2 separate regions of the Homo sapiens genome follow, and region 1 is linked to region 2. A link means that fine-mapping ties the variant in region 2 to the expression of a gene that starts in the linked region. Tissue or cell type: prefrontal cortex. Region 2 holds a variant in brackets; the other region holds the start of a gene. All regions are shown on one strand. Distances are between the middles of the regions.

Evidence for each region. PIP is the estimated chance that this variant, and not a neighbour inherited with it, causes the effect.
Region 1: CHCHD6 starts here. The variant in region 2 is fine-mapped to the expression of CHCHD6 in prefrontal cortex (ROSMAP, PIP 0.95).

Annotation. Positions count from the first base shown.
Region 1 is chr3:126,699,877-126,708,052 of GRCh38, reverse strand. It overlaps CHCHD6 (coiled-coil-helix-coiled-coil-helix domain containing 6), which reads right to left and starts at 3,813. Exons shown (of 8, transcript NM_032343.3): 1 at 3,654-3,813. The coding sequence starts at 3,740. RefSeq lists enhancers at 2,562-3,113, 4,174-4,233 and a silencer at 3,424-3,623.
Region 2 is chr3:126,941,395-126,949,570 of GRCh38, reverse strand. All of the region lies in intron 6 of CHCHD6 (coiled-coil-helix-coiled-coil-helix domain containing 6), which reads right to left. Among named protein-coding and RNA genes, the nearest start is that of PLXNA1, 38 kb to the left of the region's middle. The variant T/C (reference allele first, on the strand shown) is at 4,790.

The DNA.
Region 1 (8,176 bases), 240 kb after region 2:
TTTGTTTCCTCCTTAGCTCTGGCAGCTCTTTGAGTCTTTTGCCTGTGTCTCTTCCTTTCTGGTCCATTCTCCCTACTGGGCTGAGGTCTCTATGATGACAGGGTCCTCGGCTTTGTCCCTCATTGTCTCAGCAAGGCCAGGCCCAGTGCTGGGCAAGTAACATGAAGGCAGTGGACATTCACTGAGGTGAGGAATAACTGGCAGTTGCAGGTGCAGCGCTCTGGCACACGGCCTCTCTGGCACTGGCACAATGGGGGACTCTCTTGTGTGTCTGACCACATTCTTCTTGATCTTCCCCTCCACCGTGGTCCAGAATCAGCCTCATGGGAGCAATGCATGACGGTAAAGTTGATCAAGCCTGGAGGGGATAATGACTCTGGGAACATGCAAGTGACTGGAACAGGGGTGGGCTCAGTGGTGGGAAAGGGGGAAAGGCTGGTGAACAGTGAGCAGTCTGGATGCTCACAAGCAACCAACATCAGCTGAATCACCAAAAAGGGCGGCTCATGTGGAGAGGAGGAGAGGGAAGGCAGACACATATGCGCCATGACTGCCATGTGTGCCTTCTCTTACTGAAGGATGAGGTTAAATGTACTGGTTAAAACAAAATCTTTACGTATTTCACACATTTGCTCTGAAAACTGGAGTTGAATATAACTGCAGCATTTTGCATTCATTAAATTTCTTTTACCTTCCATGGAATTACGGTTTGAACACACTTTGTGAATTTATGCAAACTAAGTATGTAAACTAGCAAGGCCTAGCACTTAATCTTTTTTTTTTTTTTTTTTAAGACGGAGTCTCTGTCACCCAGGCTGGAGGACACTGGCATAATCTCGGCTCACTGCAACCTCCCCCTCCTGGGTTCAAGGATTCTCCTACCTCAGCCTCCCAAGTAGCTGGGTGTACAGGTGTGTGCCACCATGCCCAGCTAACTTTTGTATTTTTGGTAGAGGCAGGGTTTCACCATGTTGGCCAGACTGGTCTTTAACTCCTGACCTCAGGTGATCTGCCCACTTCGGCCTCCCAAAGTGCTGAAATTACAGGCATGAGCCACCACTACCAGCCACTAACACTTAATCTTACAGGGACGAGAACACTTTCTAAGACCAGGCCTCAGGAATTAAATACAAATGGTCATTAAGAATATTCAACTTGCTCTAAAGAAGCTGGGGCAGATCTTCTTTGGCATCTGCTTCTCATTAAATGAACTGATTTGTTCCCTTTGGCAACTGTTTTGTTGATCTGGCAATCTTTTTCACTCACTTGCCTAAAGACAAGGTGAATTCCTCAACCCTCAAGTAACTCTGCTAACAGAAAAAGCCTCTACACCAAAACATCCTTTCTTCATACCATCACCTCCTTTCTTCAGTTTTCCTCTTTCAAACACAAGCAGAAGGAAGGACGTGGCTCTCATAACGTGGGGCTGTGCACCTTACTGTGCACCTCTGGACAAGTCATTTATCCTCTCTGATTAGTTTGCCCAGCTGGAAAAGAAAGCAGTCAGTCACCAAAGTTCCTTCCAGTTTTAAAACTAAGTGGGGCACTATCATCCCTGTCAGGACAGGTATGGGTATTGTCACAAAATTTTCAGGCTGCCTTGCATACATCATGGGGGGGAATTGCAGAAGTGAGAAAAAGTTGCTTTTTGCACCGAAAAGATCTTAATTAAAGTCCCAGAAGTTACTCAGGTTAACACCTTGGGCAAATTCCTTAACTCCTTTAAGCTCAATTCTCCATCTTTAAATACAGAGAATTTATATGTTGCAGAAGTATTTAAGAGAACTAGAAATGAAATGTACCTGTCTTATATAATACTCAAAAAACATGAGGTTTCCAATCAACTTGAAAGAAGGCACCCCCAAAGGCACTCCCCTGAACCTCTGAGGACTCCAACTTAACTTTCCAACATTCCCCAAAACAGGAGACCAAATCACAAGGGTGAGAGCACCCAAACAGAGCCAAGCTTATCTTTCTAAATTCCAATTCAGGTTCCTCCCTCTCGGCCTTCCAACACAAGCCATCTCCTCCCCCATTTAATCCTTGCCACGAGTGAGGTCCACAAAACTATACAACGCCTAGCAAGCACCAAATGTGCCAAGTACTCTGCTAGGCTAAGAAGAGAGGCCTCCACAAAGCACTCTCTCTGTGCGTTTCCTTAACACTTTCACAGACATCATCTTATCCTAGGCAGTACCTAGGATACATACACACCCAATTTTTTTTTTAATGTGGCCATTGAGGCTCAAAAGAGTTTTTTACCCAAGGTCACACAGCTAATGAGCACCTGCCAGAACTCCTGAAGTCTGTCTTTCTAAGCCACCTCCCTAATTCCTCCTTAATTAACTAATTCATCTACACCCAGCTCTGTGCGTTTCATTTAATCCTAGTCCCTTTTACTGGGTTCATTCATCTCTCCACAGTTACTTACAAAGCACCTGCAGGTGTAGACACAGGTGGAGGAAGAGGCCGAGCACAGCAACATGCCCTGGAATTGGCTTGTTTCAATCCCAGCTCTCCCACTTACTATTTACATGATCTTGGATCAGTTCGTTCACCTCTCAGTGCCTCACTTCTCCTTAATCTACAATAATGGGCTAAATAGGGCTGTTGAAAATTAAATCAGTTAACTTATAAAGGGTTTAGTCCAACGCATGGCCCCTACACTGCAATAAGAGCTGCTTTTATTCTTCTGGGTTCTGGGGACAGTCTTCAATCAGACAGGAACCTTAGCCTCAAAAAGCTTACACTCTAGCAGTAAACGCAATAAACAAGTAAACAATTATCAACAGAAGCGATCACTGTGATGAGTGCTATGAAAATAATAAATGTTGGACGCGGGGTGGGAGGTTACTTCAGATTGGGTGGTCAGGGAAGGATTCTCTGGTGATATCTGAATTACAACAAGAATTACAAGAAACAGCGGGATTTAAGGAGAGCTGAAGGAGAGAGAACAGCCGGCGCACAGACCCTGAGCTGAGCCAGCGGCACCCTCCAGGAAAACACGGCGGTCCTGAGGCTGGGGACGAGGTGCGGGTGCCACGCGAGGGAAATGGCACGAGATGCAGTCCCAGAGGGATGCAGTCCCCAGAGGTCGACGGGCAGCGGCCAGCTTTGGAACCAGGGAAGGCATCATCCAAGCGCGCTAGGAACCCACTGGAGGGTTTCAGGCAAGGAAGGGGATCAGATCTGAGCTATGGTTCTTCCTGCGCCCCGCAGATGTGCTGTGGAGAACAGGCCGGCGGGGAAGAGCTGAGTCCCCAGGCAAAGCCCAGGTGGGAGACACCGCGTACCCAGAACGAGATGCGCGCACCTGAGGGGCCACGGGCTGGGAGGCCGGGCGCAAATTCAAGAAACGTAAAAACTAAGCCGACCGGAGCCAGGACGTGGCCAGGGCGTCCCTCGTGTCCCAGGGGCCTCGCACCTGTACAGTTCTTCACTCCTCCTTCCCTGAAGCCCATGTCGCGAAGCTCCAAGGCTGCCAGCCTCGGGCTCGCGTCTCGGCTCAGCCTCTTCCTGGCCTGAGCCCCCGGAGTCTCCCAAGCCCCACGCCCCTCACGCGTGGAAAGAGCCCCGGCCCTGCGCTCCGCCCCGCACCTCCCCCCCGCGCCCGCGGCCTCCACGCCCGCCCCGGCCCAGGCGGCGCCGCTCACCCGGACACCCTGCAGCACCCGGACCCGCTCCTCCTCGTCCACTCCGAAGGACACCCTGCGGCCCTCGCTGCTCTCCGTGCTCCCCATGGCGAGATGCCGCAGGGCCGGCAGCCACCAGACCCGAGACCCGGCTCCAGAGCAACCGGGCCAACAACGCTTTCCAGGACTCGCGCGGCCGCGGCACACGCCAACAAAGCCACGTCCTATTGGCCGACGCCAGAGGCTTCACCAATCGGGTGGCGCTGAGTCGCGGTGCCTTGTGGGGATTGCAGTCCTTCCGTCTGGAGGGGTGGGGGCGTGGCGGTCTGTGCCTGCTAGAGTGCGTTAGGCTGAGGCCGAAGATGTGTACCGGCGGAGGCCCTGGAGTGGAGGGCTGGGTGCAGGACAGGGTCACGTTCTCGCTTTGGGAGCTCCCCCTTGAGGGAGAGCCAAGGGTGATGTTCTGAGGCCAGGAGACGCCGAGACGGCCAAGGCGCTCATCTGGAGGCGAATTTCTGAGGGTTCACTGCTCCATTCATTCAGCAAACACGTGTAGAGCAGCACGGGCTGAGCGCCAGACGAGCAGGGACCTGGCCCTGGCATTACAGCGCCCCTCAAGACAGCGAGTGTCCTGCCCTTGAGAGGTTTACAGTGCAAGGGGAAAACAAGTGAAAAGCCAAACACGCACGCAAGGAAACTGACTGTAATACACGGAAAACTGCATGGCGATGCCACTAGTAAAATGAACAGAAGGAGGCCTCTTTTAATTTCAGTGGCCAGAGCAACCTCTGAGGAAGAAGCTTTGAACTGAGCCGGCGGGAGAGTAGGATTTATGTAGAAAAAGGTAGGGGAAGAGGTTTCCTGGGAGTCTCAGGCAGGAAAAGAGAAAGAGGGGTCATCCCATGGCTGGAAAGTGAGAAGAGGGCAGAGGAGTGGTGAGGACCCAAATCATGTCGGGTCTTGTGAGGCAGGGTCTGAGTGTGGGTTTTATTCTAAACGCCCCGGGAGGACAGGGAATGGTCCTAAGCCGTTAGGAGGCATTGCCCAAGGAGTGTACATACCATGTGTGGAGTGCAGTGTGCCAGGCATTGTGTGTAGGCTTCTTACACAGGACCCTATGTGTAAGGGAGCACACAGACGGTTGCCAGTCATAGACACTGCTACCTTCAAATAAGCCCCTTTTTGTTCCTCTGAGTTGCTGAATGGCTTTGATTTGCAAAAGTGCGCCTGAAGCCGAGCTGAGGAAAACTAGATGGCTACATGAAATAGCCAGAAAATATTTGGAGCTCCTATTGGCAACCTGGAAAGAAAGGGGTGAGGAGGAGAGAATGATTGAGAGAGAGCAGTAAGGCTCTGAGATTGAGAATAGCTCAGGGTGAAGAAGCTAGTAAACATCCCAGAGCTGGTGTGACGATGGAATCTTTAGGAACAAAGGTGTCTGCTAGTTTCATTCAAAATACTTCATTGGCGCACCCCACTCCATCACCTCTGTCGTCCATTTCTTCCCTATAAGCAGAGCCTGCGTAGGGGATTCTGGTGCAAGGAGTTTCCTGGGGGAGCACCTCAGGAGAAAGGAAGTTAGGGAGACAGGCTAAGAGGGGTGGGGACCGGGGGCCGCGGGGAAAACTGAGTAAAGATGTGGTCAGACCTGGTCCTGGGCTTTCCTTTGTCTCTTTTCCTTGGAGGTTTATGATTACTAATTCAATCTCCTTACTCGTTATTGGTCTGTTCAGATTTTCTGTTTCTTCAAGACTCAGTTTGGATAGATGGTATGTTTCTGGGAATTCGTCCATTTCTCCTAAATTATCCAGTTTCTTGGTGTATAATTGTTCATAGTAGTTGATTATGATCTTTTGTATTTCTGTGATATCAGTTGTAATGTCTCCTCTTTCATTTATACTTTTGTTTATGTGAATTACCTTTTTTCTTGGTTAGTCTAGCTAAGGTTTGTTAATTTTGTTGATCTTTACTGTTGATCTTTTCTGTTGTTTTTCTAGTTTCTATTTCTGCTCTCATCTTTTTTATTTCCTTCAGTCTGCTGACTTTGGGGCTTAGTTTGTTCCTCTTCTAGTTCCTTGAGATATAAAATTAGGTTGTTTGATGTCTTTCTTTTTTCTTAATGTAGGTATTTTTCGCTATAAACTTCCCTCTTAAAAATGTTTCTATTGCATCCTATAAGTTGTGGTACCTTGTGTTTCCATTTTCATTTGTCTCAAGATACTTGTTTATTCCCCTTTTGATTTATTCTTTGGCTCATTGGCTGTTCAGGAATGTGTTGTTTAATTTCCGCACATGTGTGAATTTTCCAAAGTTCTTCCTATTACTGATTTCTGACAACAAACTATTCAAAAAGAAATTAAGAAAATGATCCCACTTACAATAACACCAAAAAGAATAAAATATGAATAAATTTAACCAAGGAGGTGAAAGAAAGATGCACACAAAAAATTGCACACTAAAAATTATAAGACACTGTTGAAAGATACTATAGGAGACATAAATAAGTAGAAAGATAGCCTGTGTTTATAGATCAGAAGAATTAATATTGTTAAAATGGCTTTACTACCCAAAGTAATCTACACATTCAATGTCATCATTATCAAAATTCTAATGACATTTTTCACATAAATAGAAAAAACAATTCTAACATTTCATATGGAACCACAAAAGACCCCAAATCATCAAAGCAATCTTGAGAAAGAAGCAGAAAGCTGAAGGCATCATACTCCCTGATTTCAAACTATATTACAAAGCTGTAGTAATCAAAAGAGTATGGTACTGGCATAAAAATAGATACATAGATCAATGCAGAAAAATAGAGAGCCCATGCATATATGGTCTACTAATGTTTGATAATGGTGCCGAGAATATACACACTATGGAGAAAGGAAAGTCTCTTCAATAATTGGAGCTGGAAATACGGGATATCCACATTCAAAAGAAGGAAATTGGACCCTTGTATTACACCACATAAAAAATCCATTCAAAATGAATTGAAGACTTAAATGTGAGATCTGAAACCCCAAAACTCCTAGAAGAAAACATAGGTGGAAAGCTTCTTATCATTGGTCTTGATGATAATTTTTTTGGCTATAACACCAAAAGCACAAACAACAAAAGTAAAAATAAACGAATGGTATGACATCAAACTAAAAAAGCTTCTCCACATAAGAGGAAACAAGCAGCAAACTGAAAAGGCAACCTACAGACTGGGAGAAAATATTTGGGCACCATATATCTGATAAGTGCTTAATATCCAAATATACTCTATAAGGAACTCACACAACTCAATAGCAAAAATAAATACCCAATTTAAAAATGGGCAAAGGACTTGAATAGACATTTTTCTGAAGAAGACATGTGAATAGCTAACAGGCATATGAAGAGCGCTCAACACCACTAATCATCAGAGAAATGCAAATTAAAACCATGGTGAGATATCACCTTACACCTGTGAGAATCAGTATTGTAATAAAGACAAGAGAAGTGTTGGTGAGGATGTAGAGAAAAGAGAACCCTGCACACTGCTGGTGGGAATATAAATTTGTAGAGCCATTATGGGAGAGAGTATGGCAACTCCCCCAAAAGTCAATACAATCTAATAATCCTATTTCTGTATAGTTAACTTTAGCCTAAAGCTGCTTCCTTGTAAGTTCAGCCTAAAGGTTGATCCATACATAGTGAACTGTAATCTAACTGGATGTGTAAACAGACTGTAACCTACTCTTATAACAAGTAGCCAAGTCTCAGCCAATCAGAAGACATACTACTCACAGGTGGCCAACTGTTCGGTGTTCAAATAAGTCTGTAACCCAGCTGTAACCAATCTGGCTATTTCTGTATTTCACTTCCATTTTATTTATGTCATTTTCCTTTTCCTGTCCCTAAATCCTCTCCAACCCCACTGGCAGCACTGAAGTCTCTTTGAAGCTATTCTGATTTGGGGGGCTCCCTGATTTGTAACTTGTCCTTTTCTCAAACTCTTTAATCAGTCTCAAGTTTTTCCTTTAACAGTATATATCTAAAGGAAATGAAATCTTGAAAATATATCTGCTCCCCCATGTCCATTGTAGTATTATTCAAAATACCCAAAATATGGAAACAACCTGTGTCCATCAACAGATGAGCAGATAAAATGTTTTACACACACATATATATACATACACACACACACACACACGCGTGTTTTATCCAGCCATAAAAAAGGAAATCCTGCCATTTGTGACAACATGGACGAACCTGGAGGACATTTTGCTAAGTGAAATAAGCCAGGCACAGAAAGACAAATACTGTATGATCTCACTTATATGTGGAATCTAAAAAAGTTGAACTCATAGAAGCAGAATAGAACATTGGTTACCAGGGATTAGGAAGTGGGGGCATGGGGAAATGGTCAAAGGGTACAAACTTTAGTTATAAGATGAACAAGTTCTGGCCAGGCACAGTGGCTCACGCCTGTAATCCCAGCACTTTGAGAGACTGAGGCAGGCAGATCATTTGAGGTCAGGGGTTTGAGATCAGCCTGACCAACATGGTGAAACCCC
Region 2 (8,176 bases):
CTTCCGTCCACGGCGGCAGTCCGGGCAGCAGCCTTCCCTTCCGTCCACGGCGGCAGTCCACGCAGCAGCCTTCCCTTCCGTCCACGGCAGACCTCTGGGCAGCCTTCCCTTTCGTCCACAGCAGGAGTCCGTGCAGCCTTCCCTTCCGTCCACGGCAGACCTGTTGGTGCAGCCTTCCCTTTTTCCGTCCATGGCAGGTGTCTGTGCAGCCTTCCCTTCCGTCCATGGCAGGCGCCTGTGTAGCTGTCCATGACTGCACAAACCTCCTGGGTCCAGGGCCGCCACTGGGTTATGAAGTGTTGCCTGTTTGTGCCTAGATAGGAAATGCAGACTGTTGGACAGGGTCAGGTTGTCCCTTCTGTTCTCCTTGGCTCAGAGTCAGCAGCACAGCCTGCTGGTTCAAAGCACACAACTGGCTGTATCTGAGACTCTGCCAAGCAGGAGCATTGGAGGGAAGGAAACACTGGACCTGGCAGTGCTATAAGGCAGGAGCTGTGCCACCACTGTCTATTAATGCACTGACTTCACACAGCAGGACTCTCAGGTAAGGCAGAGATGCCCCTTTATTTCTCAGGTTTCCCCTTCTGGCCTGGGTAGCATGGGTTTGGCCCACATGAGCCAGCCTGGGCTAGTATGAACCCATTCATGGGCCCAGTGAAAGGTATGGGGTGAAACTGTGATCTTCCAGGGAGAACATAAAGCTGGGCTTCCAAACTCCATGACCCACTGTCCAAAAGGAAACAGACTCTAACACCAAATGAGTTCCTCAATTCGAAGCCAGGTACTATTTTTAGCTTTCCTGTAGCACAAACCTATATGTTCCACTTTTGGATTAAGTCAGTTTGGAGAGGGTGCCTGTCACAAATTGTTGTCAGAAGAAGACAACCTGGTCAAGTTGAGGGGTCCAGGGGCTCCTGAGAACTAGACATGTGCAAAGGTTAGTGGGTTTGATGATCCCCTCAAATTCATGTCCTTCCTGGAGCCTCGGAACATGGCCTTATTGGGAAACAGGGTTGTTACAGATGTGATTAGTTAAGACAAGGGCATATGGGGTAGGGTGGGCCCCTAATCCAGTACGAATCCCATTCATATTCTCTTGTGAAGAAGAGAGGAGACACAGAGACCACAACACAGGGAGGAGGCACTATGGGGACCGAGGCTGACAGTAGAGCGATGTGTGTGCCCAACAGTATGTGTGTCCCGGAATGCCAAGGATGCCAGCACCACCAGCAGCCTAGGAGGGGCTGCAACAGATTTCCCCTCCAGCCTGAGGGCGAGACTGGACCACCAACACCTTAATTGTGGACCTCTGCCCTCCAGAACTGTGAGAGGATAAGTTTCTGGGCTGAAAGGCCTGACATGTGGTGCTTTGTTTTGGCAGCCCTGGGAAACCCATGTCATCAGGCATGCTGCAAAGGGGTTGGACCCGTTTCCCAGAAGTAGAGTGGGGAGCGGGGATGGGCAGGAATGACCGGGGGACCAATGTATCTCTGATCGTTTTCTGAGAGCAGTGTGCACTTTCCACGGCATGGTGGCTGGGCCCAGGCGCACATCAGCAATAGCCGCTACACTTCAATGCCCACCACATGCCAGGCTCCATGCCAGGGTCTGCACATGGTGTCTCCAATCTCTGTCCTCCCCTGTAAGGCGTTATTTTATTTAGAGATGAACTGACTCACCTTAACCCACATAATGGAAAAGGGGAGGAGCCGTAGCTTATGAGCCGGTTCCTAAAGCTGCTGCCAGGTGCTGCCCAGGAAGTCTTCTGCACTGGGAGAGATCTGGGATGAGGATCAGCCTGTGGGAGGGGAGCTGATGGTCAACAGCACGGGCAGAAAATTCGGCCTCATTTGAGAGTGGATCTGGATGTCTGTGGTCTTGGGAACTTCTGCCTGTCAGGGCTTCCTGTGTTCTAGGTTCACAACAACCCTGTGAGCTGGGCCTTCCCACCCCGTTCTGCAGACGGGGTTGGTAAGTCACAGGCAGCTCACGTGACTGGCCCGCAGTCACAGAGCAGTGAGAGGGGCCCGGGATAGGAAGAGTGGAGTGTGCTCAGCTCCATAGCTCTTGCTCTCTGCACCGCCACATGAGCTCCACTCTGCCATTAGAAAATTCCAAGACATTCTGAAAGAGACAACCAAGGGTACTCAGAAAAAGAAAAGACAGTTGCCCCGAACCACATTAGGCAGGGCTCTGCATGGGGCAGAAGCTTGCCAACTCCCATTGGGCAGCCGGGAAGCTCCCAGCCCAGGAGCCACAGGGAGGAAAGTGAGAGAGGAAGACATGAACTCATGGCAGCCTGCAGCATCAACATGAGGTGGGAAGAAAAGCAAACAGAAGTGAGCGGAAGCGTCCTGTCATGAGACCAGCCTGGCAGAAGCATGGGTGGCACCTTCCCATCTTGGGCGCACACATCGTAGGTGGCCAAGTCGTTCCCATGACGGCGGGCACTCCAGCTCCCAGGTGGGCAAGAAGAGGGATTCGGGACCAGACGCCAGGCCCTGTTCTCTCTTTCTCCTGTGGAGCGCGCCCAGCGCCTGCTCACACGTGTGGCCCCAAATCCTCTGTGTGCTCTCTTCACTTTATTTAATAAATGGAATCTCATCAACTTATCCTTCTCCTATTATCACTGCTGACATCAATCTGATAATATTGGCCTGGTGTGGAACTGGGCTATTATATGTCCTCCTGATACTTAATTTCAGAGAAACATCAGCAGGGGGGTGAATACATGGAGCAGGCTTTTTATTACAGGCAGCAGTAAGGAGATTCCGAGTGAATTAGACATTCATCTTGGTCAGGTCCAATCTAGCTGTTCAGGAGGGGTTTCTGCTTTAACCCGTGGCTAGGGCTGAGGCGCTGATGAGACCAGCTGGTTACTAAGGACTTGGTTAACTGACTGCTATTGACGATGTGCCACTCAGCCTGGGTAAGTGGAACCCAGAGGTCCTGCCATCGATCAACACGCCACACGGGATTGCTATCAACTGCAGGATGCCGGGCTCCAGCTGCCCCATCCCTCAGGTGGGAGAGGGGCCTGTTTGAGAGCTGAGGCTTGCGAGAGAGCCTGGGGGTGCATTGCTCCCAAGAGGGCCTGAGACACAAACGAGCCCCTGGCTGCTGCTTAGTGAGGCAGAGGCTGCGTGTGACAGGATTGTCCAGGACTATCCCTTCTCTCTCACACACACGGAAAGAAGAAAGGGCCATTCCTCTTTGTTTCTTTGTTGGAAAAAAATAAAGAATGCACACTTTCCCTAAGAGGAGATGCACCCTCATTCACTAGATGTCAGAGGAAGCCAGGTGGGGCGCTTTCTGGGCTTTGGCAAGGCGGAAGGAAAGGGCAGGGCCATGGTGGCCTTTGGTGCTGGGGGATGACGACTTCCAGCCCGCCTGTGGCTGAAGAGCTTTCTGGCGCTGTTTCTGCCAATGAGACTCACCATGGCAGCCCCTTGCAGCCATGGCCTCTGGACACAGGGGAGTCCTTGGGCTGCCCCAACCCTGCTCTGTGTGGGGCTGCGGGAGGCTCTTGAGCACAATCCTATGACGTGACCTTCCCTCAGCACTGGGTCCTCAACAAAGCAGGGAGCTGTCACCCAACTGGCACTGGGTGGGTCCCTAGCACTCCAGACTGTGGGTGGCTGCCTGTTCCCCACCCCCTGTCGTCTTAGAGTCCTTGCCGCCTCTCTGCTGGAAACTTTAGCTCACCTTCTGGCTAATTCACTTCCCCCCTCAAGTCTCCCCAAGTTTACCCCTTTAGTCTCCCCATGTCTCCTGCCTTGAGTCTCCCTGAGTGTCCCCGCTCGAGTCTCCCCACTCAAGTCTCCCCCCGAGTCTCCCCATGTCTCCCTACTCGAGTCTCCCCGAGTCTCCCCGCTTGAGTCTTCCCCCGAATCTCCCAAGTCTCCCCGCTTGAGTCTCCCTGAGTCTCCCGACTTGAGTCTCCCCCATCAAGTCTCCCCCACACCGAGTCTCCCCCATCAAGTCTCCGCCACACCGAGTCTCCCCTACACTGAGTCTCCCCGTCCCGAGTCTCTCTATTCAAGTCTCCCCCCTCCCAAGTCTCCCCTGAGTCTCCCACCTAGAGTCTCCCTGTTCCCGACTTTCCCCGCTCCCAAGTCTCCCCACTCGAGTCTTCCCAACCCAAGTCTCCCTGCTCGAGTCTGCTCCTCCAGCCTGGCTCCTTGCTGACATCAACTAGAGGGATCTTTCTGACTCATGATGGTGGGGGTGCTCTGGCCCAAAGCTCCCCAGAGGATGGCGCCCCCCACAGGCCTGCCCTTCCAGCTCTGTGCTTTGGCCTCAGCAATCCTGAAGGTCAGAGCTCCCAGAACCCGAGGGCTGGCCAGCTCCACACAAGCACATGGCCAGTTCACAGTGAGCCAAAGTCCTCCTCACAAGAGCCGCCCGTGCCTGCTCTGCTGCCCTGAGCCTCCCTCCTACCTGGCCTCTTCTCCCCAGCCTTTTCCACAAACTCCATCGTACCAGCCTAAAACGCCCCCGTAAAGACCTATGCTAAATGAATGTCCTTCCTTCCTTCAAGGGACAACTATTTACTAAGTGCCCATCCCATGGTGACCAGACTCACAAACAATGAAACCTCTGCCCTGCCCTCAGGGACCCCTCTCACCCACCCACAGCCACAAGGCCTAGAGGCAAGGCCAACTCCACAGCGAGGCATTCCGGCCCCTCTAGGACCCAGTCCTGAGGAGAAGGTAAGTCTCCATCCTGCCTGATTGTCATCAACTGCCCCCACGCCTGGGCCACTGGGCCCCAGATTTCAGGAACACTC[T/C]TGACTCCTTCTCCAATCTGCCCCCATGTCTGTCTGCTAACCACAACTTCCCCTGAAGGTTACCTGCCCTTCTTCCCGCTGTCACACAGGTGCTGTGCGTCTGTGTAGTCCTATGTGGACAGGCCGCCAGCCCCGCCTCTCTGTCCCCTCTCACTGGGAGGAAGTGTTACTGACCCAGTGTCACTTCTGCTCTGTGGCCTCCCTGGCCTGCTCACCTGAGAGGGTCCTGTGACATAGACCATCTGAGCACACTGCACCCAGTCATGTGGGACATGCTGTCTCCCCACTAGACAGGAGTGCCTGGAAGCCAGGAACCACAGCTTATTACCTCGGCTGTAAGGTCCTCACAGAATACTATGCAGGAAGCAGATATTCTATAAATAAATTGAGGTAGGCAGAGCATCAATAATTAAGTCATTGGGGCTCCACCTTCTTCCAGCTTCTAGGGGCAGAGGCCAGATCTGACTGACACACCAGATGTGGATGTGTGCAGTCTGACCTGGGGCCTTTGTAACCCGGTGGGCTGAGCCCTGGACCATGTGCCCAGCCCCTGGCTGAACAGGCGTCTGTCTGGGCCATGCCGTGTCCTGCATTCTCACCTTCTCTTAGCTTCTATTCCTGAACACAGCTCAGCGCCTATTGCCAGGTGTGTGGAAATTCTGTAACCTACCTCCTTCTCCCATCCTCACTGTGGATCCAACTTATCAATTCTTCCTTTCATGCACTGTTTGGCATTATATCTAAGAGTCATCATCAAACCCAAGGACATCTTTTTCTCCTATGTTATCTTCTAGGAGTTTCACAGTTTTGCGTTTTACATTTAGGTCTATGGTCCATTCTGAATTAGTTTTCATGAAGTTCATAGTTTTTTAAGCTGCGATAGTGTTTTATCAGCTGGCAGCTCACTCATAACCTAAAAGGAAAAACAGATTCCTATAGGGCCTCCCAGAAGACCTGGGCCCCCCATCTATGACCCTTTCCCCTCCCTCTACTGTCTTCCTCGAGCACATTCAGAAACTGGAGCTGCACAGAACACCGTGGTAAACCCTAAGTATTGCAAAGAAGAGCTCTCAGACACTGGGCCTCCTTCATTATGACAGCCCTACCTCGCTACCCCATCACGGACACCAGAGGAGGCCAAAGAGGTCCTCCAGGACTCACCTCTCACCGTACCTCATGTCACCCAGAAAAAGGGGGACTGCAGACCATGTGTTTTTAGGATAGAAAGCACCCAGAAAATGTGCCTCAACTTCTACTGCCACACCTTGGCTTTGGACCAGAACTGACTTCCCTTAGAACAACCACAGGGTCAGCCACCCGCTACTGGGGTCTGGCAAGACACCTGATACAACCTGACCCCAGGTGAGGAGGCAAAACGAGGCAGAGGGAAAGTGGACACATCCCACAGCCATGCAGAGGTGAAGGCACACTCTGTTCCGATTTCCTAACTTCCATCAACCTGAAGTCACGAAAGGACTTTGAGTTGTTTTCCGAAAAAACAAAGAATGAAAGCCTTGTCCTTCAATTGTCCTTTTCCCTCCCAGCAGAAGTCACAGGGAGTGGGGTGGTAGTGGGGGGCGTCATTAGGAGGTGGTGGCAGTGGCCTGCTTGCAGCTAAGGCAGCCGGTGGGGTCCAGGAGGGGACGTGGCAGCTGAAAAGGCGGCTGGCATGGTTGAGAGACTGGTTACATTGAAACAAAAGTTCACTGATTGAGCAAATACATATCCTGTTGAAGAAAACAGCCAAGTCTCATGCTCTATGAGAAGGGAGATTTACACATGGAAAAGGAGAGAGAGAGAGCCCTACAAAGAGCCTCCAGATATTAGAACTGGAAGTATCACTATGGACTTGTGAAATACTCCCCCCCACACACAGATGGCAGTCCTCACGCATGCACTGTGGATGTACATGCACACACATCTACATACACATGCACTCTGTGTACACACATCCATGTTTCCCAGCTCTTCCCACTGAGAGCACCTAGAAGCAATGACACCTCCATAGCAGGGAGCACACCCGGAGCTCAGATCCCAGAGCATGGTTTCTAGCAGCATCCTCCAACAGAAGGAATGTGGCTCCTGGGAGAAACGGCTGACTCCAGGGCTGGGGCAGAGAAAGGACAAGATGAGCCTGAACACCTTGCGCTAGAAAGTAAATAATGAAGAGACATGCCAAAGGAAGGAGAGTCAGTTTGAAGGGCAAAATCTATGGCATTTTGAATATTAAAATAAGTTATAGATTATAGCCCAATGAATAAATATGAGTCCTTGACTCCTTACTAACATAACCAAATAAATGAATAGTTACATAACTAAAGAGAGAAGGGGAAACTCCTCCTTTAATAGAATATCAATTCATAAATGTAGAAGAAATGATGGAAATAGATCATCACAATGTTCTCAATGGAAGCTAAGGCTGATGGGTGGAAGTTAGATGAGGATCAGGATACTGGCATAACACTGGAGTATCTCCCCCACAAAATACTAAGCAAACACAAAGGGAAAATAAGGCCTTCACAGCAGGGAGACCGTGGAGATACCAATGTGACCAGGTCTAGGTCAGCATCACTAGTGGTAGGACAGGTGGCCTCTTGAACCTACTGATGGGATGCACCTCACAAACATAGCACCAGTTCTGGGGTCTTCCTGCCAAGAATGCACGGCTTGAGTCTGGTCATGAGGAAACACCAGGTGGGCCAGGGCTGGGGCTCTCCCTACAGATGAAAGCCCTGCACTTTCTTCAAGTCTGTCAGGGTGGAGAGAGACACGAAAGAGTAAGGAACTGTTCCATATGAAGGAGCTGATGATGCATGACAGATTCCTGGACCAGAAAGGAAACGACAACATTAGGGTAGCAGGTGAAGTGTGGTCTGTGGGCTGACAGTCCTGTTGAGTCAGTGCTGATTTCCTCATCGGCAGCAGTGTGAGGTGACCAAGGAGGAGGTATTCTTGGGAGGCCCATGGTGCATGGAAGTATTTAGGGGTAAGGAGTTATCATGTCAGAAAAAGACAATGTTTTCATCTAGAGAGAAAAGGTGATGAAGCAAATTCTGTAACATGTAAAAAATCAGGGAATCTTGGTTAAGGAGATGCAGGAATCCTTTGTGGTGTTTGTTCTTACAATCTTTCTATGGGTTTGAAATTATTTCAAAATAGACCAACAGTGACGGCAATTTGATAGAACTGGATGTACTCAAAAGGACGCACTTATCCCCCAAAAAAAGAGTCTATCTAGATTTTCTTCTCCTGGCTGGGAGTGGGGTTGGGAAAGTTTGACAAAGTGATTCTAAATTCAACCTCAAAAGAGAAGATGCAAAAAGATCATCAAGGCAGAAAAGCTTGCTCAGCCAGATTATTTAATATTTTAAATAACTATAGCTTCCT